Linked DNA regions of Homo sapiens. The protein of the gene in region 1 purifies or fractionates together with the protein of each later gene. This does not show direct contact. Each region holds a gene or a part of one and is shown in the gene's direction. Other genes may lie near its edges.

Evidence for each region.
Region 2: the proteins of MPI (region 1) and TKFC purify together in Homo sapiens (affinity purification with mass spectrometry; one large-scale study listed by BioGRID and IntAct). This does not show direct contact.
Region 3: the proteins of MPI (region 1) and PITPNB fractionate together in Homo sapiens (co-fractionation; one large-scale study listed by BioGRID). This does not show direct contact.
Region 4: the proteins of MPI (region 1) and ADA purify together in Homo sapiens (affinity purification with mass spectrometry; one large-scale study listed by BioGRID and IntAct). This does not show direct contact.
Region 5: the proteins of MPI (region 1) and NECAP2 fractionate together in Homo sapiens (co-fractionation; one large-scale study listed by BioGRID). This does not show direct contact.
Region 6: the proteins of MPI (region 1) and FAM185A fractionate together in Homo sapiens (co-fractionation; one large-scale study listed by BioGRID). This does not show direct contact.
Region 7: the proteins of MPI (region 1) and NECAP1 fractionate together in Homo sapiens (co-fractionation; one large-scale study listed by BioGRID). This does not show direct contact.

Annotation. Positions count from the first base shown.
Region 1 is NC_000015.10:74,896,542-74,900,041, forward strand, and holds part of MPI (mannose-6-phosphate isomerase), read left to right. Parts: intron 1-469; coding exon 470-678; intron 679-970; coding exon 971-1,189; 3' UTR 1,190-3,500. UniProt on the Homo sapiens protein: Isomerase that catalyzes the interconversion of fructose-6-P and mannose-6-P and has a critical role in the supply of D-mannose derivatives required for many eukaryotic glycosylation reactions.
Region 2 is NC_000011.10:61,336,228-61,339,727, forward strand, and holds part of TKFC (triokinase/FMN cyclase), read left to right. Parts: exon of another isoform or gene 1-22; coding exon of another isoform or gene 23-163; intron 164-1,713; coding exon 1,714-1,903; intron 1,904-2,838; coding exon 2,839-2,949; intron 2,950-3,026; coding exon 3,027-3,208; intron 3,209-3,500.
Region 3 is NC_000022.11:27,912,757-27,916,256, reverse strand, and holds part of PITPNB (phosphatidylinositol transfer protein beta isoform), read left to right. Parts: intron 1-1,909; coding exon 1,910-1,940; intron 1,941-3,500. UniProt on the Homo sapiens protein: Catalyzes the transfer of phosphatidylinositol and phosphatidylcholine between membranes. Also catalyzes the transfer of sphingomyelin.
Region 4 is NC_000020.11:44,624,200-44,627,699, reverse strand, and holds part of ADA (adenosine deaminase), read left to right. Parts: intron 1-1,100; coding exon 1,101-1,244; intron 1,245-2,015; coding exon 2,016-2,131; intron 2,132-3,370; coding exon 3,371-3,498; intron 3,499-3,500.
Region 5 is NC_000001.11:16,454,224-16,457,723, forward strand, and holds part of NECAP2 (adaptin ear-binding coat-associated protein 2), read left to right. Parts: intron 1-1,594; coding exon 1,595-1,670; intron 1,671-3,500. UniProt on the Homo sapiens protein: Involved in endocytosis.
Region 6 is NC_000007.14:102,800,999-102,804,498, forward strand, and holds part of FAM185A (protein FAM185A), read left to right. Parts: intron 1-3,500.
Region 7 is NC_000012.12:8,092,274-8,095,327, forward strand, and holds part of NECAP1 (adaptin ear-binding coat-associated protein 1), read left to right. Parts: intron 1-402; coding exon 403-511; intron 512-598; coding exon 599-782; intron 783-3,054. UniProt on the Homo sapiens protein: Involved in endocytosis.

The DNA of each region.
Region 1 (3,500 bases):
CCATGCTACTCTGATTTTAAGTCCTGCCAGTCAGTGTGGGAACCACAATTTGAACGCAGGCTATATTGGATCAAAGCTGTTGTTCTGTCACAGCCTTTGTATGTCTGTCCTACCTACCAGGGATTTTTACACTAAAATATGCATGTTGCCATGGAAGGATGCCACCTTTCGACTGTTGGCTGCTTATCCACACATGCCTCATGCACAGGATTCTGGGGTAGAAGTGGGAGACTACAGAGTTGGGGCTCCCCAACCCCCAGGGGTTAACATGACTCCCCTCTGACAATAATGGGTGACCTGTCACCTGTTTTTGGTATTTGATATCTTAACCCCATTCTCCCAGAGAATACAATTCATGGAAATTTTTACCTAACTTGGCATGGGGTTCATGGAGCTCAGGTTAGGAGGCCCAGAACTGGAGAGCTAAGGCATACTTCATCAGCTTAGCACATGACGACTGTCTCTCCAGACTGCGTGGAGTGCATGGCGTGTTCAGACAACACAGTTCGTGCTGGCCTGACACCCAAGTTCATTGATGTGCCAACCCTGTGTGAAATGCTCAGCTATACCCCTAGCTCCAGCAAGGACAGGCTCTTTCTCCCAACACGGAGTCAGGAAGACCCCTACCTCTCAATCTATGACCCCCCTGTACCAGACTTCACCATTATGAAGACGGAGGTGAGTGAGGGGCTATGATGGGTGTCCTTCGTGTGCCATGAAAATCTCTGGCAAGGGTCACGATGTGGAGGACACCTGGGGCTGGGTTTCCTGTCAAGCCCACTTGGCGGAGGGTGGCCCCAGGGCCTGCCCATTCCTTCCTGTACCAGGGACCAGGCCTCTATGCTGACTGAGCCTGGGTTGTGCGAGAAGGTGGCAGAGCTCTCCCTCGTGCCCTGGGGACTGTCCTGGGCCCATGAGCTGATGAGAGCAGAGTCTGAGCTGCACTGCCTTATCATTTCTTCCTGCCCAGGTCCCTGGCTCTGTCACTGAATACAAGGTCTTGGCACTGGACTCTGCCAGCATCCTCCTGATGGTACAGGGGACAGTAATAGCCAGCACACCCACAACCCAGACACCAATCCCTCTGCAACGTGGTGGCGTGCTCTTCATTGGGGCCAATGAGAGTGTCTCACTGAAGCTTACTGAGCCGAAGGACCTGCTGATATTCCGTGCCTGCTGTCTGCTGTAAAGGCTGCAGCCTCCCCAGCTCTCCTCTGCCAGCCACCCTAAATTCCAGCCAACCTCACCTCCTCGGGCCCAGCTCAAGCCCCCTTCCTTGCTCTGGACCCCTTAGGTATACCCTGGAAGAGCTGGGGTGGGGGAGGAGGGAGCGTGAAGGTAGTGACTCCTGAACACACCCAGGTGGAACCATCTTTGGGGAGGAGAGGCCCGTGTGAGGGGTCTGATACTCCCTTTGTCTTCCCTCTCTACTCCTCGCTACACCTGAGCCAGGCTCTTGCCAACTCTGTTCCAGCCTATGGCTTTAGGCTAGCTGTTAAATATGTGACCCAGCATTAGCTCAGCATCTGTCAGAGCAAGAGACCAGGTAATTTCTAAGAACAGGGTTCTAGCGATGGGACTGCCCATTTCCTCAGCTGCAGAGGAGGAAAGGGAAAGGGTAGGCCTGTAGACTAACGCTGTTTACACCCTTGTTCTGTCAAAGCAATTAAAGATCACTTGTGTTGAGGCTGTGGGGTAATGAGCACTCAGCCTTTGGGGTACCTGTTCCTAAAGTGGGCCAAAAGAGCCCTCCCTACATGATGCCCCAGTTTTTGCTTTATTCCTATTTCATACAGCTTCTCGGGGGAGTGAGCAGGCTACACTCCAGAACACCGGTATGGGAAGGAGTGGGAGAGGAAGCCAGCTTTGGCCTCACAGGCACAGCTTGCAAGCAGGCCTTGGGTCTGCCCAGAGGCACAGCTTGCAAGCAGCCCTACAGAGAAGGTGACTCAAAGGATACACCAGTCACCAGTGCAAGACTCTTCGCTCCTGTTTTTCTCTTTTTTTTTTTTTTGAGACGGAGTCTCGGTCTGTAGCCCAGGCTGGAGTGCAGTGGCACGATCTCGGCTCATTGCAAGCTCCGCCTCCCGGGTTCACGCCACTCTTCTGCCTCAGCCTCCCAAGTAGCTGGGACCACAGGCGCCCACCACCACGCCCAGCCAATTTTTTTGGTATTTTTAGTAGAGATGGGGTTTCACTGTGTTAGCCAGGATGGTCTCGATCTTCTGACCTCGTGATCCGCCCACCTCAGCCTCCCAAAGTGCTGGGATTACAGGCGTGAGCCACCACGCCTGGCCCGGCTCCTGTTTTTCAACTGGCCCTAGAGGAGGGGTCCGCAAACCAGGCTGGCAGGCCAGTTCTGGCCATACCTGTTCATTTCCATACTGTCTGGCTGCTTTCAAGCCACAGTGGCAAAGTTGAAGAGTTGCACTAGACTGTACGGCCTGCAAAACTGAAACCATTGACTGTCAACCACTTCTCTACAACATACTCAACTGTTGCAGATTACAGGGACTCAGGAACCGAATTAGACAATTTTCATGGCGAGGAGAAGCCCAGTTAGCTTTCCTAAACGGGCAGGAAGTGTGAAGGAGGGAATCTCCTGATGCCCTGCTCCAGGGGTGGCACACACCTGCAAGAGGCTGTCGGCTGTCTGCTGCTGCTGAGGTTTCTGACCTGCAATCGTAGATCCTGTCACCACAGACTAATCACTTAGTCCACTGGCTCCTTCCTGTGGGATAAAGGTTTAAATTCATGCAAAAGAATCTTTCTGGGCTTCTGCCCACACTAGAGTCCCTATACAATGGAGTTCCAGGAAACCACCTTCAAAAATCTCCTGGGTTTTCTTGCCTCCAAATTTTCTTCAGCTAAAAAACAATAAAGATGAGCTGGAAAGAAAAGGTCTGCTAAAGGGAACCCATTCTACAGAAGTGACTTGCAAGAGCCTATTTCACTCATGCCGTCCAGTGAAACAGGCCCGAAAGTGATGCCCAGTGGGAACAGCAGAAAGGGGAGGGAGTTTCCAGAAGGAATTGCTGTAGTCAGCTGTTAAGCTATTTCTTCATTTCAGGATATCCAGGATATTCTTAACTTTTATTTTTTTGAGACGGAGTCTCGCACTGTCTCCCGGGCTGGAGTGCAGTGGCGCGATAGCTCACTGCAACCTCCGCCCACTGGGTTCAAGCGATTCTTCTGCCTCAGCTCCTGAGTAGCTGGGACTACAGGCGCCTGCCACCACACCCAGCTAAGTTTTTGTATTTTTAGTAGAGACGGGGTTTCAGTAGAGACGGGGTGACAGGATCTACAATTCCAGGTAAGGTCAGGTTGGTCTCAAACTCCTGACCTTGTGATTTGCTTGCCTCAGCCTCTGAAAGTGCTGGGATTACAAGCATGAGCCATTGTGCCTGGCCAAGGCCTTTAAAATCCACTGCAACACAGACACAGCTCAACTAGTGTGATTGCATTTATTCTTATAAATGTACAGAGCTGTAGAAGTGCAA
Region 2 (3,500 bases), on another chromosome or scaffold:
GCTTAGCCCTGGCCCTGGCTGGATGCAGGACAGGTTGGCAGGGAGGCAGCAGAGCCAAATTTTGTACAAAGGAGCTGGTGCTAGCAAGCTCAGGAAGAAGCCACAGCCGGAAGTTCACCTTGCCAGGACCTGGCTCAGCTGCAGGTTCCCACCGGGCCACCAGGTGGCGGTGGGAGCCCAGCCCTCTGAGTCCACGTTGGGCCCCAGTCTCACTCTGTCTTCAGGACAAAGCCAGGGGCTGCAGCCCTTGTTCAGCAGACTCTGGCTTTTCACAGCCTGTTTGAAAAAGGGAGTAGCTTCATTTGATTGAGTTTCCACTATATCATGGGCATATACTCTGTTCTAGTAAATCCCTATTTTACAGAGGAAGAATTTTAGCTCCCGACAATGATGTATCTTCCCTGAGTTCCTGCAGCTAATGAGAGGCAGAAGTGGGATTTGAACCCAAGTCCCTGTAACAGCAGAGCTCAAGCCACACTCCATTCTGGCCCCCACGCTACTCACTTCTGTCTGCACCCTGTATCCACTCAGCCAAGCCTGGCGGCACTGCTCTGTAACCCTCCACCAGCCTGTCCACAACCCCTCCTGAGGCTGCCTGTGGCCAGTCCTCTCCTCCCCACCCCTTCCTGCTGGTCACCCGTGCTTCCTGGCACCACCACACTATTCACTCATCCAGGCCTTGGCTTATGCTCCCCCTCTGGCTGGAAGAGCCTCCCTTTTCCCTCCTCCCATGTCTCCTGCCCCCTTTTTCCCTACCCCGGTCCTGCTTATCCTTCCCAGAGACCTCCAGGCCCCTCGGGAGGCTGCGGCCCCTCCTCTATGCTCCCATGGTGCACGTGCGCTCCTCGTGTAGCAGTGCCCACTACACATGGCTGTGACCTCTGCTGTGTTTCCACTGAGGGCAGGAACAGCATTGTTATCTCTTTTTTTATTTCCGAGATGGAGTCTCACTCTGTCACCTAGGCTGGAGTGCAGTGGCACGATGACAGCTTACTGCAGCCATGACCTCCCAGGTTCAAGTGATCCTCCCACCTCAGCCTTCCGACTAGTGGGACTCCAGGCATGCACCACCATGCCTGGATCATTTTTCATATTTTTTGTAGAGATGGAGTCTCATCATGTTGCCCAGGCCGGTCTCAAAGTCTTGGACTCAGGCGATCTGCCTGCCTCAGCCTCCCAAAGTGCTGGGATTACAGGCATGAGCCACTGCACCTGAGCTGTTATCTCTACACATAGTGTCTAGTGCTGGGCCTGGCATACCAAGAGGCTGGGGAAATGTTTGCCCCGCGTTGGAGCACCAGGGAGCAGCGGTGGCTGTGGAACCTGCTCAGCTCCTCCCCCAGCATAGGAGCCTCAGCCTGAGGCTTTTCTTCCTTTTGACAGAAGAAGGTGTTGGGCCCCAGTTTTATTAAAATATTTTACACTGCAGGCAACCACTCCCCCATTTTCTTTGTATTGCAGCCATTTTTTCAGAATAAATTGAAGGTATGGTGCAAGACACTTCATAAATTAGGTACTGAATAGAAAGTCACACATTACTGAAAACTCACAGAAATACCCACCTAAGATGTCGCCCAACTCAAGGAAGTCCTGTGCTCCTGGAGTTCCTAGGTGGATGCGGGAGAGGGGTCTACACCACAGCAGTGTGGCTGCGCAGGATGGGGGTATCTGTACTGACCACATTCTGACCTCCTTCTCACTCCTCCCTTGCAGACCTCCAAGAAGCTGGTGAACTCGGTGGCTGGCTGTGCTGATGACGCTCTTGCTGGCCTGGTGGCCTGCAACCCCAACCTGCAGCTCCTGCAGGGCCACCGCGTGGCCCTCCGTTCTGACCTGGACAGCCTCAAGGGCCGGGTGGCACTGCTGTCGGGTGGGGGCTCTGGCCATGAGCCTGCCCATGCTGGTGAGTATCCTGGGGTGGGGCAGGGGGTACTAGTGGAGTGGACAGGGCCTCCTGGGGGATCCTTAGTGCTGCCATGAAGTGCAGGATGGAGCTCAGCCCAGAATCAGGAACTGGGGTACTTCCCACTCTCCCACTCCCTCCGGCTGGGATCAGGGGCCCATCACGGCCTCTCTGAATCTGTTTCTACATCTACAAATCTACGAAGTTGGGCCAAACAATCTCTCAAGTCCTTCTAGCTCTGAGAGTCGGTGATTCCATGAATCTTCTGGACCCTCCAAGCCCAGCAGACCCACCCCGATTCCATGAAGGCTTCCTGACTCTTCCAGCCTACAGCAGCACCCCTCTTCTGAATTCCCACCTGCTGTGTCCCACTTGTGGACTGTCCTGGCTTCTTTCCTGTGTGGAGCCAGGGACGCAGACTCTCCTTGAGGGCTGCTGGAGGGCAGGGACTAGGATGCGCGTCATTTCTCTGCTTCCTGTCTTCCTTCAGCAAAATCCATTCATTTGGCAAACACTCATGAGCCCACTGTGTACCTGGCGCTGTACTGGGCACTAGGGATACCAGACAGGCAAGGTCCCTGCCCTCGTGGAGCTTATATTCTACTTAGGGGAGACAGACAATAACCAAGTAAACACGAAAGTAAATGAGATCATTTCAGAGGGTGCTAAGTGACTTAGTAAAGACAGTAAAATGGGGCAAAGGAACAGTGAGTCCCTGGGGAGGGAGCTGGTGACTGCTTCAGGCTGGGAGGTCACAGAAGGCCTCTCTAAGATGCCTCCTAAGAAGGAGTCAGCCATGTGAAGACCTGGGGGATCTTTGAGCACCAAGCACACAGTAGGGCTCACCAAACCATGACCCCCGGAGTGTGGGAAGCCCCAGTGACTACAGGCGCGAGTCCCACCCAGCATGCTCACTCCACTCCTTCCACCTCCAGGTTTCATAGGGAAGGGGATGCTGACTGGGGTCATCGCGGGAGCTGTGTTCACCTCCCCGGCAGTGGGCAGCATCCTGGCAGCCATCAGGGCCGTGGCCCAGGCCGGCACAGGTAAGCCTGGCATGCAGGAGGGGCTGCGGCAGGGAGGGCACAGTAAGCACACTGAGCCCTTCCGGCTGCTCCCGCAGTGGGGACGCTCCTTATCGTGAAGAACTACACTGGGGATCGGCTCAACTTCGGCCTGGCCCGGGAGCAGGCCCGGGCTGAAGGCATCCCGGTGGAGATGGTGGTGATTGGGGACGACAGCGCCTTCACTGTCCTGAAGAAGGCAGGCCGGCGGGGGCTGTGCGGCACGGTGCTTATACACAAGGTGGGCTTCCACCGGGGACGTGGAGACTGGCCAGCCCTTTCCAGCCTTCCCTTGCCTGGCAGCACCCAGTAACTGGACCTTTCCAGCCCTTCCCCAAGAAGCTAGTTCTTTTTCTCCAGTGTTCCCTGATCTCAGAAGGCCCCGCCATCCCCTCAGCTACCTAAGCCCAGATACAGGCATTTTCCCAGACTCGTCCCCTTTTCTTCTCCACACCCAATCAGTTGCCCGGTCCTGGTGCTTCTCCTCCCAAATGTACAACACACATCCTTCTCAGACCCCGCCCTCCTGCTTT
Region 3 (3,500 bases), on another chromosome or scaffold:
GCAAATCTTGAAGAAGTTACTTGACTCATTGTTCTGAATGTCTTAATCAGTCACTTTAATTTTTTGAAAGAATTTCCTTGAAAGTGTTCTTAAATAAAAATAGGGATCTTCCTGTTAGTGAGTGTAAAATTACTCAGCAGTGATTCTTTGGTTTTGTGAAACTTAAGGGAAGACTAACTCTTCTTTCTCTATCCCTTCCTTCCATTCCCTCTGCAGTCCATCATCTTGGTTCAGGCCTTTGTGACAGTTCTTGCCTAGCCTCCCAAAAGATAGCTTTCCCCACTTCTCCTGCTTGTCAGTGTTTTCAACCACCTGCAGATGACTTCTTCAGGTCAGCAGTAGTTGTCACTTACCTCTTGGACCAACCTTTTGGGATTCCTTATTGCCTGATGAATTTAATGGATTTCTTACCATAGTATTCCAGGTCCTGATAATCTGCTCCCAACCTATAGCTTTCTAGTCTTCCTCTCCCTCATTTTATGCTCTGGGACAGTGAGCAAGTTAGTGTATACTGAGAAGAGAAATGATTCGGAATTTTTAGGTATAGAAGGACTTACAAAAAGTTTATTCTTGATGGAGAGTAGAAATTAGTGACCATTGTGGATTTGAGAGTGTTCATTGTTTTTGAATCACCGTTACCAGAAAGACAAAGAGTGGCGAGTAACTCAGTAGTCAAAGGGGAGGGAGTAACAGACTTGTGCATGTTGGAGATTGAGGTAATGTGAACATTCAGACATAGATGTTTGAGGAGAGTAGGGAGAAAGGAGTAGATGGAAAGTGTAGCTGGAATGCAAACTAGATATAATCTGGGTTTTATTACTCTCTTCATACTTACGAATAAGAAAGACTATTAAAAAAGAATGCCTAGGCCAAAAAGATTGTCACTAATACAAACAATAAGCTAAATGACTCTTACTGCAAGAAAAAAAGAAAAAGAAATTATAAGCTGAAAAGAAATTGGAATGAGGAAAACTATTGAAAATTTTCCATAAAATGACAGATAAGATTAGGAAAGTATGAGAAGGATCGTATACCCCCATCCCACAAAAAAGGAAGTTGCTGTCTTGGAACCAACTATAATTATGAGACCATTGATATACAGGGATGTTCTTGGTTTTCAGGATTTATGGTGGAAATAAATTAAGGACTCTCCTTATAAAATCTAGAGATAAGATGCAATATTTTGATAAAACAATATACCATGATACTGTTTTGGATTTTATCTTTTAAGACTGCTTGCAATGGAGCTATAATGACATCTTTTTGGTATATACAATAAGAAACTCTTGGACAGGATGAAACACATGTCAACCTTATATTGTATATATGCTGGAAGGGATTATTATAAGGTTCAAGTAGTTTCCATAGTAAAATTTTTCTTACTAATTCTACACGACTCCTTATTTTTCTCTTAGTAAACTTGAGGAATAATTGAATAGTGGGGGAACAGTTTCTGGAAGCGTTTATTCAATGAGATTCAAGACACGTATTCTGTAAGAAGCATCATAAAAACAAAATGCACAGTATATAGGTGGAGAATGAAACCATACTAAAAATTTAGTCAGGGCAACCTGACCAGACAATCTGCAAATAATACGTTCTGTACCCTGCAATTTTCAATGTTGAGTTTTCTCTTTTTTCTTTACTCACAAGAATCTCTGCAGCTGCTGTTTGGGGTCCTGGGAACACTAAATGCAAATGATCATTGAGACCCAGGAATGATAGTTTTAGTTCCCCAATTATGGTGTAGGCATTGCAAAGACCCTCTTCCATAAATGACACCCTTGTATTTTTTTGATTTAAGAGACCTGTCTCTGTTATCATTGGATTTAAGGTAAAACCTCTTCAGAGATCTGTGTTTAAAGCTATTTCATATGTAATATATATATTTTTTCTTTTGTCTTTTTAGCCGTGTGGTTTTGCCATGTTCTGTTCAGGAGGTGAGTTTTTCTTGCTTCTGCATCATTTTATTGGTATATGTACTGTACTTTGATATGTTACTCTAAACTCACATTTTCGTAGTATTGATTTACCTTTTCATTCCACCTTATGTGACAAAATTAATTATATGAATGATAATTGCAAAGAATTGCAAAATGAATTAAATGAATGATAATGAATTTCTTGCTACACTGCCTTGTTTTGGAAGAGTCTAAAGAATGTAGTTTAACCTCCTGTCTAGTGCAGGAATTCTTTCTCCAACATCCCAGAGAAATGAGGCTCCAGCCTCAACTTAAGTACTTTAAGGTTAAGTAGCTTGCTGCTTAGAGAAGCAGCCTACTTTACTGTTGGACATTTTAAACATTTGTGTTTGAACCAAAATCTGCTTTTCCTATAATGCTTGACTCTTGTTTACAGTTTATCCCATTTGAGCAATGGGAAATAAGCCTGTTCTGTCTTGTAGTGGTTAATCCTTCAGGTTTTCTGATGGCAGCTCTCCCCTCCAGCCAACCCCATCCCCCACAAGCACTTTTATTTCATCTTAGAAAGTCTCAAGGTTAAACATTCCCAGCACATTCACTTGGCTTAATACAGCATGATATGTGGACTTGCTACCAGCTGGTCCTGTTACTATATGTGTTGTAATTGTTGATCTGAACTGAAAACAGTATTCCAGACATGGTATGAACAGCACACAACTGTAAGAGCTTATTGTTTTCCTCAGTCTGGACATGATACAGAAATATATCACCTATTCAGAACTTGCATGTCCTGCAGTTATAGCCATGTGTATTGTAGACAAGAATGAAGATAAGAGCAGAAACAGCTTCTGAGAAATCAAGATATATATAGCAAAACCCATAAAACCCTCTAGGCTCTTCTGTAACTTGCACACAGTTCCCATTTGCTCAGTTATCTGGTTTTCCTAGAGCTGACAGTAGATTAGAAGCAGTGACTTGGAAGTGGGACAAAACAAACTGATAACCTAAGAAGTGACAGCTGACAGAAGACAGAAAGAAATGCAGGAAGTGAAAAAGAGTAGCTGTCTGGCACTGTTTAGTGTAGACTTGAACACAGTTGTTTATATCTCAGGAGGATTCACTGTATTAAAACACTCCAGAGAAGCTAGGCACCCTGTTCTCTATTTGCACAATTGATTGTTTGAAGTTGAATGTGGAAATTGACACTTGTTTCTGTTAGACTTTTTCTTTTGATTTCAGCTGGTTGAATCAGCTTGTCGAAATCTTTTTGAGTCTTGGTATTGTCACTGAAAATACTGTTCTCGGCTTTTTGTTATACTCCCCCCCCCACCTTTTTTTTTTTTTTTTTTTTGGAGATGGAGTCTTGCTCTATCGCCCAGGCTGGAGTACAGTATTGCGATCTCAGCTCTCTGCAACCTCCGCCTCCTGGGTTCAAGCAATTCTCCGTGCCTCAGCCTCCCTAGTAGCTGGGATTACAGGCACCCGCCACCGCACCTGGCTAATTTTTGTATATTTATTAGAGACCGGGTTTCACCATATTGGTCAGGCTGGTCTCGAACTCCTGACCTCAAGTGATCC
Region 4 (3,500 bases), on another chromosome or scaffold:
TATTGGGCTACTCTGTCCTAGGCATGGTCCTCAGCTGAGAGGTCGCAGCCATCCCAAGACAGAGGGGTCCTTGCCACATGGAGACTGCATTCTAGTAGGGAATACAGCAAACTGGCTGATAAGCCATATGACACACAATGTTGAGTAGTGATAAGGACCTGGGAGAAAAAGAAAGCCCAGGAGAATGGTGGAGGGGCCGTTTTAAGATAAGGCGGTCTGGGCCAGGTACAGTGGCTCACGCCTGTATCCCCAGCACTTTGGGAGGCTGAGGTGGGCGGATCATGAGGTCAGGAGATCGAGACCATCCTGGCTAACACAGCGAAACGCTGTCTCTACTAAAAATACAAAAAATTAGCCGGGCGTGGTGGCATGCGCCTGTAATCCCAGCTACTTGGGAGGCTGAGGCAGACGAATCACTTGAACCCAGGAGGCAGAGGCTGCAGTGAGCTGAGATGGCGCCACTGCACTCCAGCCTGGGCGACAGAGCAAGATTCTGTCTCAAAAAAAAAAAAAAAAGATAAGGTGGTCAGGGAAGGCCTCTCTGAGGAGGTGAAGCTTCAGCTGGCTCTAAACCAGGGGAGCGGGAGAGACGCAGTGTAGGACAGTATCGGGGAAGAGCAGGCCTGTGTCTTCTCCGGTGGCCTCAGGGAATGAGGGAGAAGGAAGGTGCTGGGGAGGCTGGCAAGGCCTGGAGGATGCAGGCCTTGTGGGCAGGACCTGGGAGTTGCGATGTCACTCTCCGTGGCAGGAAGCTACTGGGGCTTCGAGGGGAGAAGTGATATGCTTTGATTTACCTTCTTAAAAGATTGCCCCAACTGCTGGGTGGAGAACAGGATGACAGGGGCAAGCATGGAGACAGGGAGGCCAGTTAGAGATGGCGTGATTCAGGCCAGGATGGAGGGGTGAGAACTGGTATGCAGTTCCAAAGTAGAGCTGATAGGACTTGCCCAGTGTCTGGGATCTTATCCAGTGGATGCCCAGAGCTTGGGTCTGGGGGATGAAGTGGGTTTAATCTGCCAAGGGTTGGGGATGTCATTTGCTCCTGGAGCTCCCAAGGGACTTGGGGAAGGTTGTTCCCAACCCCTTTCTTCCCTTCCCAGGGGCTGCCGGGAGGCTATCAAAAGGATCGCCTATGAGTTTGTAGAGATGAAGGCCAAAGAGGGCGTGGTGTATGTGGAGGTGCGGTACAGTCCGCACCTGCTGGCCAACTCCAAAGTGGAGCCAATCCCCTGGAACCAGGCTGAGTGAGTGATGGGCCTGGAAGGGGCCATGCTGAGGGTGTGGCTGGGAGGCTCAGCTCTGAGACTGGAAGGGCGAACTGCTGGGAATCCCTGACCCAAGCAAGACCTTGTTCTTGCCCCCAGTCTGGTCCATGGCCTCAGAAAGATGGGTTTAACTCTGTCACAAGAGACGTGGTTCCCATCCTCCCTTTGCCGTTATGTTCTTACCTTGGGCACAAGTGTTTGGCTGTGTCTTGCTCTGGCCACAGGCCTGCTGTCCAGGAATGTTAACCTGCTTAGCCACCCAGGATTTCTGAGGGGTCTCCCTTGTCACTGATGCTGATCAGATCTCTAAAGGCCCTAAAGGTCCTGCTCTAACTTCATAACTGAAGTGAGTCTGGCCCATTTCTAGCCCCCTGCCTGGGCCCCCATGGATCTCTAAGTGGTATCACAAAACCACCCTGCCCCATTTTCTGAGCCATGATTCTGATACATATAGAATGTGAACATCATGGCAGGCCCAAGCTTAGCAATGCTGTCCATCTGGGGGTGGGGAGGGCCATGTTGACACCCCACACCTCCCACTAAGATCTAGGAGCACCCAGCTGCTTTAAGAGCTAGAGGGACATGCTAGGGCCTGGGGGCATCTCTGCCAGTCTTTCCTCTGAGGCAGTGGGTCAGTGGGGGAGGAGGGTCCTCCCCAAAGCCTCCTCTTCCTCCTCTGTCCCAGTCCCAGAGCTGCCCTTTAGGCCTTCCTTTTGCCTCAGGCCCATCCCTACTCCTCTCCTCACACAGAGGGGACCTCACCCCAGACGAGGTGGTGGCCCTAGTGGGCCAGGGCCTGCAGGAGGGGGAGCGAGACTTCGGGGTCAAGGCCCGGTCCATCCTGTGCTGCATGCGCCACCAGCCCAGTGAGTAGGATCACCGCCCTGCCCAGGGCCGCCCGTCTCACCCTGGCCCTGACCTCCTGGCCTAGCAGTGGGGCTGTACCTGATCTCCCCTGTGCCCCACAGCCCCATGGTGTCCCCTTGAGCCCACTGGCATGAACTTGGGGCTTCATGAAACAACTGGAGACCTCCTAGGCAGGCTCAGAACTTCTGGAGATGTTCTCCCCAGGGACACCATGCCTTTATAGCCACCCTGCAGGAAGCTCAACACCAAATAGGAACGTAACTATTGAAAAAAAAATCTAGGCTAGATTCTGATCAGCCCATAGTCCTCCCTCGAGACCCAGTGGACCAGGCCCCATCCTGTCTGGGCCTGAATAGGTCTGATTTCCAAGATTTCTGAGGGGTCTCCCTTGTCACTGACGCAGATCAGATCTCTAGAGTTTGTGCCTCATGGTGCACAGCCTCACTGTGTGATATTGGGCAGGTCACACTGCTGCTCTGGTTATGCACCAAGACACCTCAGTTGTGCACTGTCACAAGGAGATGATCACACTTACTTCATTCCTCTACCCTCAGGATTAGTAAGAACCAAAGAGCTACCTGCACGCATTTCCTCTAATCCTCGCAGCAGCCTGCAAAGCAGAACTACCATTGCTTAGTCCCATTTGACAGATGAGGAAACTGAGGTGGAGTGAGGTGCAGCCTCTTGCAAGGCACAAACCCTGGATTTGTATCCGGGGACATCTAGTTCCAAAGCCTGTGTTCATTCATTCTTTCTTAAACACTTCAGAATAACTTTATTGGTTAAGAGTACCTAATACATTAGCGAGATACTTCCCAATACTAGTGTGAGTTCTATTTTAGATGACGTGTTAAACGGTCCTCCGTTTCCTCATCTGCGCATGGGAATAAGCCTACCATGAGTGTTGTTGGAAACACCAGGTGAGAGAAGGGTCCGTGTCATTTACTGAGCTCAGGCCCCGTCCTTGGTGCTTTACACACATGGCCTCGGCAAAGCCTGGCCGTGACCCTGTGCAATAGCTGGCAGGGTTCTTTCTGAAAAGGGCGGAAACTGAGGCCATAAGCAGAGCAGTTTTCCGCAGGCCATGTGGTTAGGACATAGCAGTTAGGATTTGAAGACACTGAGCCCTGTTTTGTGCTGGCCTCCCATGGGGGGTTTGGGTGGGACAGCAGGCAGGTAGGCTGGGAGGTCTCTCCATGGTGCTGGTGACAGAGCCTGGGTGGGCATCTCGCCCACAGACTGGTCCCCCAAGGTGGTGGAGCTGTGTAAGAAGTACCAGCAGCAGACCGTGGTAGCCATTGACCTGGCTGGAGATGAGACCATCCCAGGAAGCAGCCTCTTGCCTGGACATGTCCAGGCCTACCAGGT
Region 5 (3,500 bases), on another chromosome or scaffold:
TAATTTTGTATTTTTAGTGGAGACGGGGTTTCTCCATGTTGGTCAGGCTGGTCTTGAACTCCTGACCTCAGGTGATCCTCCCGCCTTGACCTCCCAAAGTGCTGGGATTACAGGCATGAGCCACCGCACCTCGCCTACTTATTTATTTTTAAGAAGGAGTCTCACTCTGTTGCCCAGGCTGGAGTGCAGTGGCATGATCTCAGCTTACTGCAACCTCCGCTTCCTGGGTTCAAGCAATTCTCCTGCCTCAGCCTCCCAAGTAGCTGGCATTACAGGCATGCACCACCATACCTGGCTAATTTTTGTAATTTTAGTAGAGACAGAGGTTTCACCACGTTGGCCAGGCTGGTCTCGAACTCCTGACCTCAGGTGATCCACCTGCTTCAGCCACCCAAAGTGCTGGGATTACAGGCTGAGCCACTGTGCCCAGCCCAGTTTTGTGATCTTTAGAAAATCACTTCTCCATGCCTCATTTTTCTCATCTGTAGGATAGGGGAAGTAATGATACTTAAAATATAAGTTTCTTGTGAGGATCAAATAAGCTGATTTATGTATAGCACTTAGAACAATTTTTGGAACATTCTAAGTGCTCACTGAATGTTAGATCTCATTTTATTAATATCGTTATTGCCACTATATGCTGGACCTGTTCTAAGCATTCTGTGGATATTTAATCTTCACACCAGTCCTATGGAGTAGTTCCTGTTATTTTCAGCATTTTAGAGGTAAGAGAATGGAAACTGAAATGACCTGCACAGTCACGTGGCTCATCCCAATCTGTCTTTCCCTAGGGGCTGGGGTGAGGTTCACAGAAGATAATGTGCCTTGAGCACTTGGTGAACTGTAAAACTCTAAACCATTGAGGGCCCTAGTTTTATCTGTTCTCCTGGCCCAGAGCAGATTAGAAATAGCAACTTAGTGCCAAGGTGGAGGGTGGCAAACACAGGCCCTTCAGAAGGGCAGTTGGCAGCACTGGGGGAGGTGCCTGAAAAGCACAAAAGCAGGCATTGCAGCCCCATGGCGTCGCCTACCTTGGTGGAGAGATAGGATTGAGCTTCTGTGTGAGCTCTTTGGAATGCTCTTCCTGACCCCTAACCAGTTTGGGGCCTGGGACTTGGCACGTGGCTGGCACGTAGTGTTCTCAGCCAGTTCATCCAGACATGGTAGTGCAGGCTTGATATGAAGATGATCTTGCGGTTTTGGTGGACATTCTCCGTTCAAGAAGCTAAGACGGGTTATAGTAAATTTTAAATAGATTTCAACATAAATGGTTGATAACAAAGTCAGCTTCAGGTATGCATGTTAGATGACGTGAGACTAACCACCCATCCCGCGGGCACCCCTCGTTCCACCTTGTATGTGGCTTTCTGCGTTTTCTCCAGAGCGCACAAGGGCTGGTGAGAAGATGCTGGAAGTGTGGCAACTCAGGGTGTTTGGTTGCCCAAAAGCATGTCTGGTGTGGCTTTCCCAGCTACCTGGTGTCATGAGACTGATCACTGAGTCTCATGATTTGGTCATTGAAACAACCAGAAAGGTCTCTGACTTCTCTGTCCCCTCTTCTCTTCCTACGGGTCGGACTCGGGAACATCAATAGGAGGTGCTCCTGTACCCTGGCCACAGCCCAATCCTGCCACTGCTGACATCTGGGGAGACTTTACCAAATCTACAGGGTAAGGAGGGCCATGTTCTGCGGAGGGGCTGGGGCCAGGGCCGTTGCTCTACAAACCTGGTATTGTTCCACATGCCTGCCTTCTGGTGTTAGGATTAGGAGTAACAGTTTTAATTTGGATGTTTTCTTTTCTTTTTTTTTTTTTTTTGAGAGGGAGTTTTGCTCTTGTTGCCCAGGCTGGAGTGCAATGGCATGATCTTGGCTCGCTGCAACCTCTGCCTCCCAGGTTCAAGCTATTCTCCTGCCTCAGCCTCCTGAGTAGCTGGGATTACAGGCACCTGCCACCACGCCTGGCTAATTTTTTATATTTTTAGTAGAGATGGGGTTTTACCATGTTCGTCAGGGTTGTCTTGAACTCCTGACCTCAGGCGATCCACCTGCCTCGTCCTCCCAAAGTACTGGGATTACAGGCATGAGCCACCGCGCCTGGCCTGATTTGGATGTTTTCAAGCTAGCCAGAGGACAGAGCCCCAGCGTGCCTGCTTTGGGTGGCACACGTCTTTCCGTGGAGGTTTTGCTGCTTTCCAGTGCTATATAGCCTGGGGCAACCCTTTGCAAATCTGGGCCTTTAAACCGCCTTCCCAAGTGCTTTGGCTTGTCCCCAGTACCTCCTTCTTCTATACCCCATCCCCCACCTTCCCCAAAATAGTGGACTGAGAGTTCAGACCCAGGCTCCAGCCTCAGCCCATCCTCATAGAACGCCTGAGGCTAGGTGGCTTGTCTTCTCTGATTCCATAAGATCTCAAGACTTTACTTGGGGCCAGGGTGAAAAGATACTAAATTCCTACTGCACTATTATTTACATGGACAGATTCTAGGACAGGGGTCAGCACACATTTTCTTTTTCTTTTCATGTTTTGAGACAGGGTCTCTCTCTGTCACCCAGGCTGGAGTGCAGTGGCACTATCACGGCTTACTGCAACCACATTCTCCCATGTTGCTGGCTCTACAGGTGCACATCACCATGCCAGCTATTTTTTGTATTTTTTCATAGATACGGGGTTTTGCCATGTTGCGCAGGCTGGCCTTGAACTCCTGGGCTCAAGCGATCTGCCTGCCTCGGCCTCCCAGAGTGCTGGGATTATAGGCACGAGCCAGTGTGCCCAGCCACATTTTCTGTAAAGGACTAGATAGCAAATAGTTTAGACTATTCAGGCCGTGTGGTCTTCGTTCTAGCTACTCAGTTCTGCTCTTGTTGCACAAAAGCAGCCACAGACAATATGTAAATAAATCAGCATGGCTGTGTGCCAGTAAAATTTTATTTACAAAAATAGAGGCATGGGCTGGGCGCGGTGGCTCATGCCTGTAATCCCAGCACTTTGGGATTCCCAGGCAGGCGGATCACCTGAGGTCAGGAGTTCAAGACCAGCCTGGCCAACATGGTCAAACCCCATCTCTACTAAATACACAAAAATTAGTTGGGCGTGGTGGGGTGGTGCCTGTAATCCCAGCTACTTGGGAGGCTGAGGCACGAGAATTGCTTGAACCCGGGAGATTGCAGTCAGCTGACATCATGCCACTCTAGTCCAGCCTGGGTCACAAGAGCAAGACTCCATCTCAAAAAACAAATAAACAAACAAAAAAAACAGAGGCGTGAAATGAGGACTGTAACCCTTTTCCTGTTTGCCCTGAGAAAACTTGCCAGTGGCACTTCAGACTGCAGCGTTGACCCTGAGATAACTTTGCCACAAAATGTATTGCTTTTATATTATTTTTGCATCGCTCTAGTATATCAGCTTTGGAACAAAAGACATTCTATTTATAGCATTCTGTTTTTAATAGTGGTATTTCCATTTACAAAATATAGTAATTCTGTTTTTTTTTTTTTTTT
Region 6 (3,500 bases), on another chromosome or scaffold:
ATAAAGGAAAACCTATCAGATTAACAGCAGATTTTCAGCAGAAACCCTAGAAGCTAGAAGGGATTGGGGCCCATCTTCAGCCTTCTCAAACGAAACAATTATCAGCCAAGAATTTTGTATCCAGCGAAACTAGGCATTGTGTATGAAAGATACAGTCTTTTTCAGACAAACAAATGCTGAGAGAATTCACCACTACCAAGCCACCACTACAAGAACTGCTAAAAGGAGCTCTAAATCTTAAAACAAATCCTGGAAACACATCAAAACAGAACCTCTTTAAGACATAAATCTCACAGGACCTATAAAACAAAAATACAATTTAAAAAAAAAACAAAAAAACAAAGTACACAGGCAACAAATAAAATGACAAATGGAATGCTACCTCATATCTCAATACTAACATCGAATGTAAATGGCCTAAATGCTCCACTTAAAAGATAAGAACTGCAGAATGGATAAGAATTCACCAACCAACTATCTACTGCTTGAAGAGACTCACCTAACACATAAGGACTCACATAAACTTAAGGTAAAGGGGTGGAAAAAGGCATTTCATGCAAGTGGACACCAAAGGTGAGCAGGAGTAGCTATTATATCAGAAAAACTAACTTGAAAGCAACAGCAGTTAAAAAAGACATAGAAGGGGCCAGGTGCAGTGGCTCATGCCTATAATCCCAGCACTTTGGGAGGCTGAGGCGGGTAGACTGCCTGAGGTCAAGAGTTCAAGGCCACCCTGGCCAATATGGTGAAACCCTGTCTCTACTAAAAATATAAAAATTAGCCAGGCGTGGTGGCGGGCACCTGTAATCCCAGCTACTCGGGAGGCTGAGGCAGAATTGCTTGAACCCGGGAGGCAGAGGTTGCAGTGAGCTGAGATCACGCCATTGCACTCCAGCCTGGGCCACAGAGGGAGACTACGTCTCAAAAAAAAAAAAAAATACAAAGAAGGACATTATATAATGCTAAAAGACCTTGTCCAACAGGAAAATATCACAATCCTAAACATTTATGCACCTACCACTGAAGCTCCCAAATTTATAAAACAGTTACTAATAGACCTAAGAAATGAGACAGACAGCAACACAATAATAGTGAAGGACTTCATTACTCCACTGACAGCACTGGACAGGTCATCAAGACTGAAAGTCAATGAAGAAAAAATGGATTTAAACTATACCTTGGAACAAATGGACTTAACAGATATATACAGAACATTCCATCCAACAACTGCAGGATACACATTCTATTCAACAGCACATGGAACTTTCTCCAAGATAGACCATATGATAGGCCACAAAATGAGCCTCAATAAATTTAAGAAAGTTGAAATTATATCAAGCACTCTCTCAGACCACAGTGGAATAAAACTGGAAATCAACTCCAAAAGGAACCTTCAAAACCATGCAAATACATGGAAATTAAATAATCTGCACCTGAATGATCACTGGGTCAAAAACAAAATCAAGATGGAAATTTAAAAATTCTTTGAACTGAAGGACAATAGTGACACAGCCTATCAAAACTTCTGGGATACAGCAAAGGCCACTTTTCCTCCTAAGAGGAAAGTTCACAGCCCTAAATGCGTACATCAAAAAGACTGAAAGAGCACAAACTGACATTCTAAGGTCACACATCAAGGAACTAGAGAAACAAGAACAAACCAAACCCAAACCCAGTAGAAAAAAGGAAATAACCAAGATCAGAGAAAAACTAAATGAAATTGAAACAAACAAACAAAAAAATACAGAAGATAAAAACAAAATGCTGGTTCCTTGAAAAGATAAATAAACTTGATAGACCATTAGTAAGATTAACCAAGAAAAAAAAGAGAGAAAATTCAAATAGCCTCAATAAGAAACAAAATGGGAGCAGAAATACAAAAGATCATTCAAAGCTACTATGAACACCTTTACGCATATAAACTAGAAAACCTAGAAGAGATGGATAAATTCCTGGAAAGATACAAACTTCCTAGCTTAAATCAGGAAGAATTAGATACCCTGAACAGATCAATAACAAGCAGGAGATTGAAGTGGTAATTAAAAATTACCAACCAAAAAAGTCCAGGACCAGACTGATTCATAGCAGAATTCTACCAGACATTCAAAGAAGAATTGGTACCAATCCTATTGACACTATTCCGCAAGACAGAGAAAGAAGGAACACTCCCTAATTCATCCTATGAAGCTAGCATCACCCTAATACCAAAACCAGGAAAGGATACAACCAAAAAAGAAAACTACAGGCTGATATCCCTGATGAACACAGACGCTAAAATTCTTAACAAAATACTAGCTAACCGAATCCAACAACATATCAAAAAGACAATCCACCATGATCAAGTGGGTTCCATACCAGGGATGGAGGGATGGTTTAACATATGCAAGTCAATAAATGTGATACACCACATAAACAGAATTAAAAACAAAAATCACATGATCATCTCAATAGATGCAGAAAAAGCATTAGACAAAATCCAGCATCTCTTTATGATTAAAACTCTCAGCAAAATCGGCATACAAGGGACATACCTCAATGTAATAAAAGCCATCTATGACAAACCCACAGCTAACATAATACTGAATGGGGAAAAGTTGAAAGCATTCCCTCTGAGAAATGAAACAAGACAAGGATGCCCTCTCTCACCACTCCTCTTCAACACAGTACTGAAAGTCCTAGCCAGAGCAGTCAGACAAGAGAAGGAAATAAAGGGTATCCAAATTGGTAAAGAGGAAGTCATACTGTCACTGTTTGCTGATGATATGATTGTTTACCTCAAAAACCCTAAAGACTCCTCTAGAAAGCTCCTAGAACTGATAAAAGGATTCAACAAAGTTTCCAGATACAAAATTAATGTACACAAATCAGTAGCTCTTCTAAACACCAACAGCAACCAAGCAGAGAATCAAATCAATAACTCAACCCCTTTTACAATAGCTGCAAAAAAAAATGAAGTACTTAGGAATATACCTAGCCAAGGAGGTGAAAGACCTCTACAAGGAAAACTACAAAACATTGCTGAAAGAAATCATAGATGACACAAACAAATGGAAACACATCCCATGCTCATGGATGGGTAGAATCAATATTGTGAAAATGACCATACTGCCAAAAGCAATCTACAAATTCAACACAATCCCCATCAAAAAACCACCATCATTCTTCACAGAGTTAGAGAAAACAATTCTAAAATTCATATGGAACCAAAAAAGAGTCCCATAGCCAAAGCAAGACTAAGCAAAAAGAACAAATCTGGAGGCATCATATTACCTGACTTCAAACTATACTTTAAGGCCATCGTCACCAAAACAGCATGGTACTGGTATAATAATAGGCACATAGACCAATGGAACAGATTAGAGAACCCAGAAATAAACCCAAACACTTACAGCCAACTGATCTTCGAGAAAGCAAACAAAAACATAAAGTGGGGAAAGGACACCCTTTTCAACAAATAGTGCTGGGATAATTGGCTAGCCACATGTAGGAGAATGAAACTG
Region 7 (3,054 bases), on another chromosome or scaffold:
AGCTTCCTACCTCAAGAGCAAGCATATCTCTCCTTTTCTGCCTTAGGACTCTCTGAAGTTATAGAAAGCTAAGAGCAAGCTTTAACTTGGAAAGACTAAGAAACTAACACCCCCTCAGGAGCAGCCCTCAACTGTGGGGAATGGGAATTGGTGGCTAAATACCATCCTTCTGGAAGGGGCAATTCTAATACGTATTCCGTGAGATTTCTCAGAGAGTCCCCAGTGGAATTGAACCCCAGTTGTTTTCTTTCTTGGCTTTTTTCCCTTCTGTTTCTCACTCTTTTTTATCTCTCACTGTGTTTTCTGGAATCTCATTTCATAAAAGTAAATACACCCAAATTTGTATGTCAGACTCTGCTTTCAGGAAATCTCAAACTAAGATAACTTGCTGTGTTCCCAAAGGTGGGTAAAGCAGGAATCTGAGATTTCCAAGGAATCTCAAGAAATGGATGCTCGTCCTAAGTTGGATCTGGGCTTCAAGGAAGGACAAACCATCAAGTTGTGTATCGGGGTGAGTATGGTTTTTAAAAATTTTGTTTTCCTGTGCTTCCATAAGCCTATGACATCTTTCTCTTGCTCTTCTTTTTTTCTTTTGTAGAACATTACAAACAAGAAAGGAGGTGCTTCTAAGCCCAGGACTGCAAGGGGTGGGGGTCTGAGCTTACTCCCACCCCCGCCAGGAGGCAAAGTCACTATTCCCCCACCATCCTCCTCAGTTGCCATCAGCAATCATGTCACCCCACCACCCATTCCGAAATCTAACCATGGAGGCAGTGATGCAGGTAAATCTAGTACTTCTAATTTTGAGAAATCCAATCTTATGTTTTAATTAAGCAACACCTGTTTGTCAAGGAGAGTTAATGTTTTTGCTATGAAATAGCTCATGGTACTGACAAGGTGATTCTGTCAGCTTCTAGCAAGGAATCAAAGCTTTTCTAGTGAACTAAGAGTCATAGTATCTCATAGGTTCTTTGGCAGAAAATATTTGCTTATTAAAATGACAATTTCCTTCATTTTTTTCTTGGTTAGATGCTTATAAGCTTTTGAGTCAGATGGACCAAGATTTTGGTCATGGCTCTGCTACTTTATATTTGAATGTGCTTGGTAAACATTACTTAAGTTTTTTGAGTTTCAATTGCCTTATCTACAAACTGGAGATGTAAAACCACCCCAGCGGGGACCTTGGCTCATGCCTGTAATCCCAGCACTTTGGGAGGCTGAGGTGGGTGGATTGCTTAAGCTTAGGAGTTTGAGATCAGCCTGGGCAACATGATGAAATCCCATCTCTACAAAAAAAATACAAACATTAGTTGGACGTGGTGGTGCACGCCTGTAGACCCAGCTATTTGGGAGGCTGAGGTGGGAGGATGGCTTGAGTCTGGGAGGCTGCAGTGAACCATGATTGTGCCACTGTACTCCAGTGTGGGTGACAGAGTGGGACCTTGTCTCATAAAAAAACAAAGAAACAAACAAAAATAAATAAATAAATAAATAGATAAAATAAAATAATTACCACCCCAAGGTCATGAGGGTTAAATGATTGACAGCACCTAGCATAGCACTTGGAACATAGTAGGCATTTAGTAAATGTTATTAAACTTTCCCATTTCTTCACAAGAGCAATTGGGAGAAAAGAAGATATCTAGGTTTGTCCATACACTTTCATTCTTTCTTTCTGTTTGGTGGGAGAAAGAATAAATATGGTTATATCTTCTCATTTGAAAAATGAGAGCATTGGAACTGAGAAAAGAATTTTTCTGAGATTAGAGAACTGTGTCTTAGAATCTGAGAATTTTAACTTAATGTATTGGACAGTGCAGATAATTTGTTGAATTGATTACTAAGGGTAAGCTTTCTCTTTCTGGAATTTTTGAGGTGAAAATATTATAGCCTGCTTCTTTTGGTAAGTGTTGCCAGAAGCCACTGGGGATAGTATCTAAGATTTTTTTTAAATTAAATTATTATTTTGAGATAATCGTAGATTAACATGCAGTTGTAAGAAATAATATGAAGAGATCCTGTTTACCCTTTTCCCAGTTTCCCTCAATTGGTAATATTTTGTGGAACTATTGTCAAGTATCACAAATGAAAAATTGATGTTGATACCACTTTCTCATCTTACTCAGCTTACACCATTTTACATGTTCTCATCTGTGTATATTTGTGTGGATCTGTATATTTAGTTCTATGCAGGATTTTTTGTTATTTTTTGAGATAGGGTCTCACACTGTTGCCCAGGCTAGAGTACAGTGGTGCAGTCATAGCTCACTGCAGCCTCAAACTCCTGGGCTCAAGAGATCCTTCTGCGTCAGCCTCCCAAACATCTGGGACTACAGGTGCACACTGCCACACCAAGCTAATTTTTTAATTTTTGTAGCAACAGAGTCTCACTACGTTGCCCAGGCTGGCCTTGAACTTCTGGACTTCAGTGATCCTCCTGCCTTGGCCCCCTAAAATGCTGGGATTACAGGTGTGAGCCACTGCATCTGGCCAGTTCTTTGCAGTTTTGTCATGTGTAGGTTCATGGATCCACCATCATTTCAGGTTATAGAACAGTTTAATCACTACAAAGATCCCCTGTGTCAACCTTACACAACCACACCCATCTCCCTCTCATCCTTTCTTCCCCCATTCCTAACGCTTGGCAATCACCAGTCTGTTCTCCATCTTTATAATTTTGTCACTTCAGGAATGTTCTATGAAAGGAATCATACAGCATGTAACCTTTGGGACAGGCTTTTCCCACTCAGCATAATTCCCTTGAGATTCATTCAAGTTGTGTGTCAATAGTCTGTTTCTTTTTATTGCTGAATAGTATTCCATGGTATGGATATACCAGTGTGTGTAACTATTGCCCATGGAATGACATCTAGGTTGTTTACAGTTTTTGACCATTATGAATAAAGCTGCCGTGGCATTTGTATACAGATTTTTGTGCAAACATAAATTCTCATCTCCAAGATTTTTTTTTTTTTTTTTTTTTTTTGAGACGGAGTCTCGCTCTGTCGCCCAGGCCGGACTGCGGACTGCAGTGGCGCAATCTCGGCTCACTGC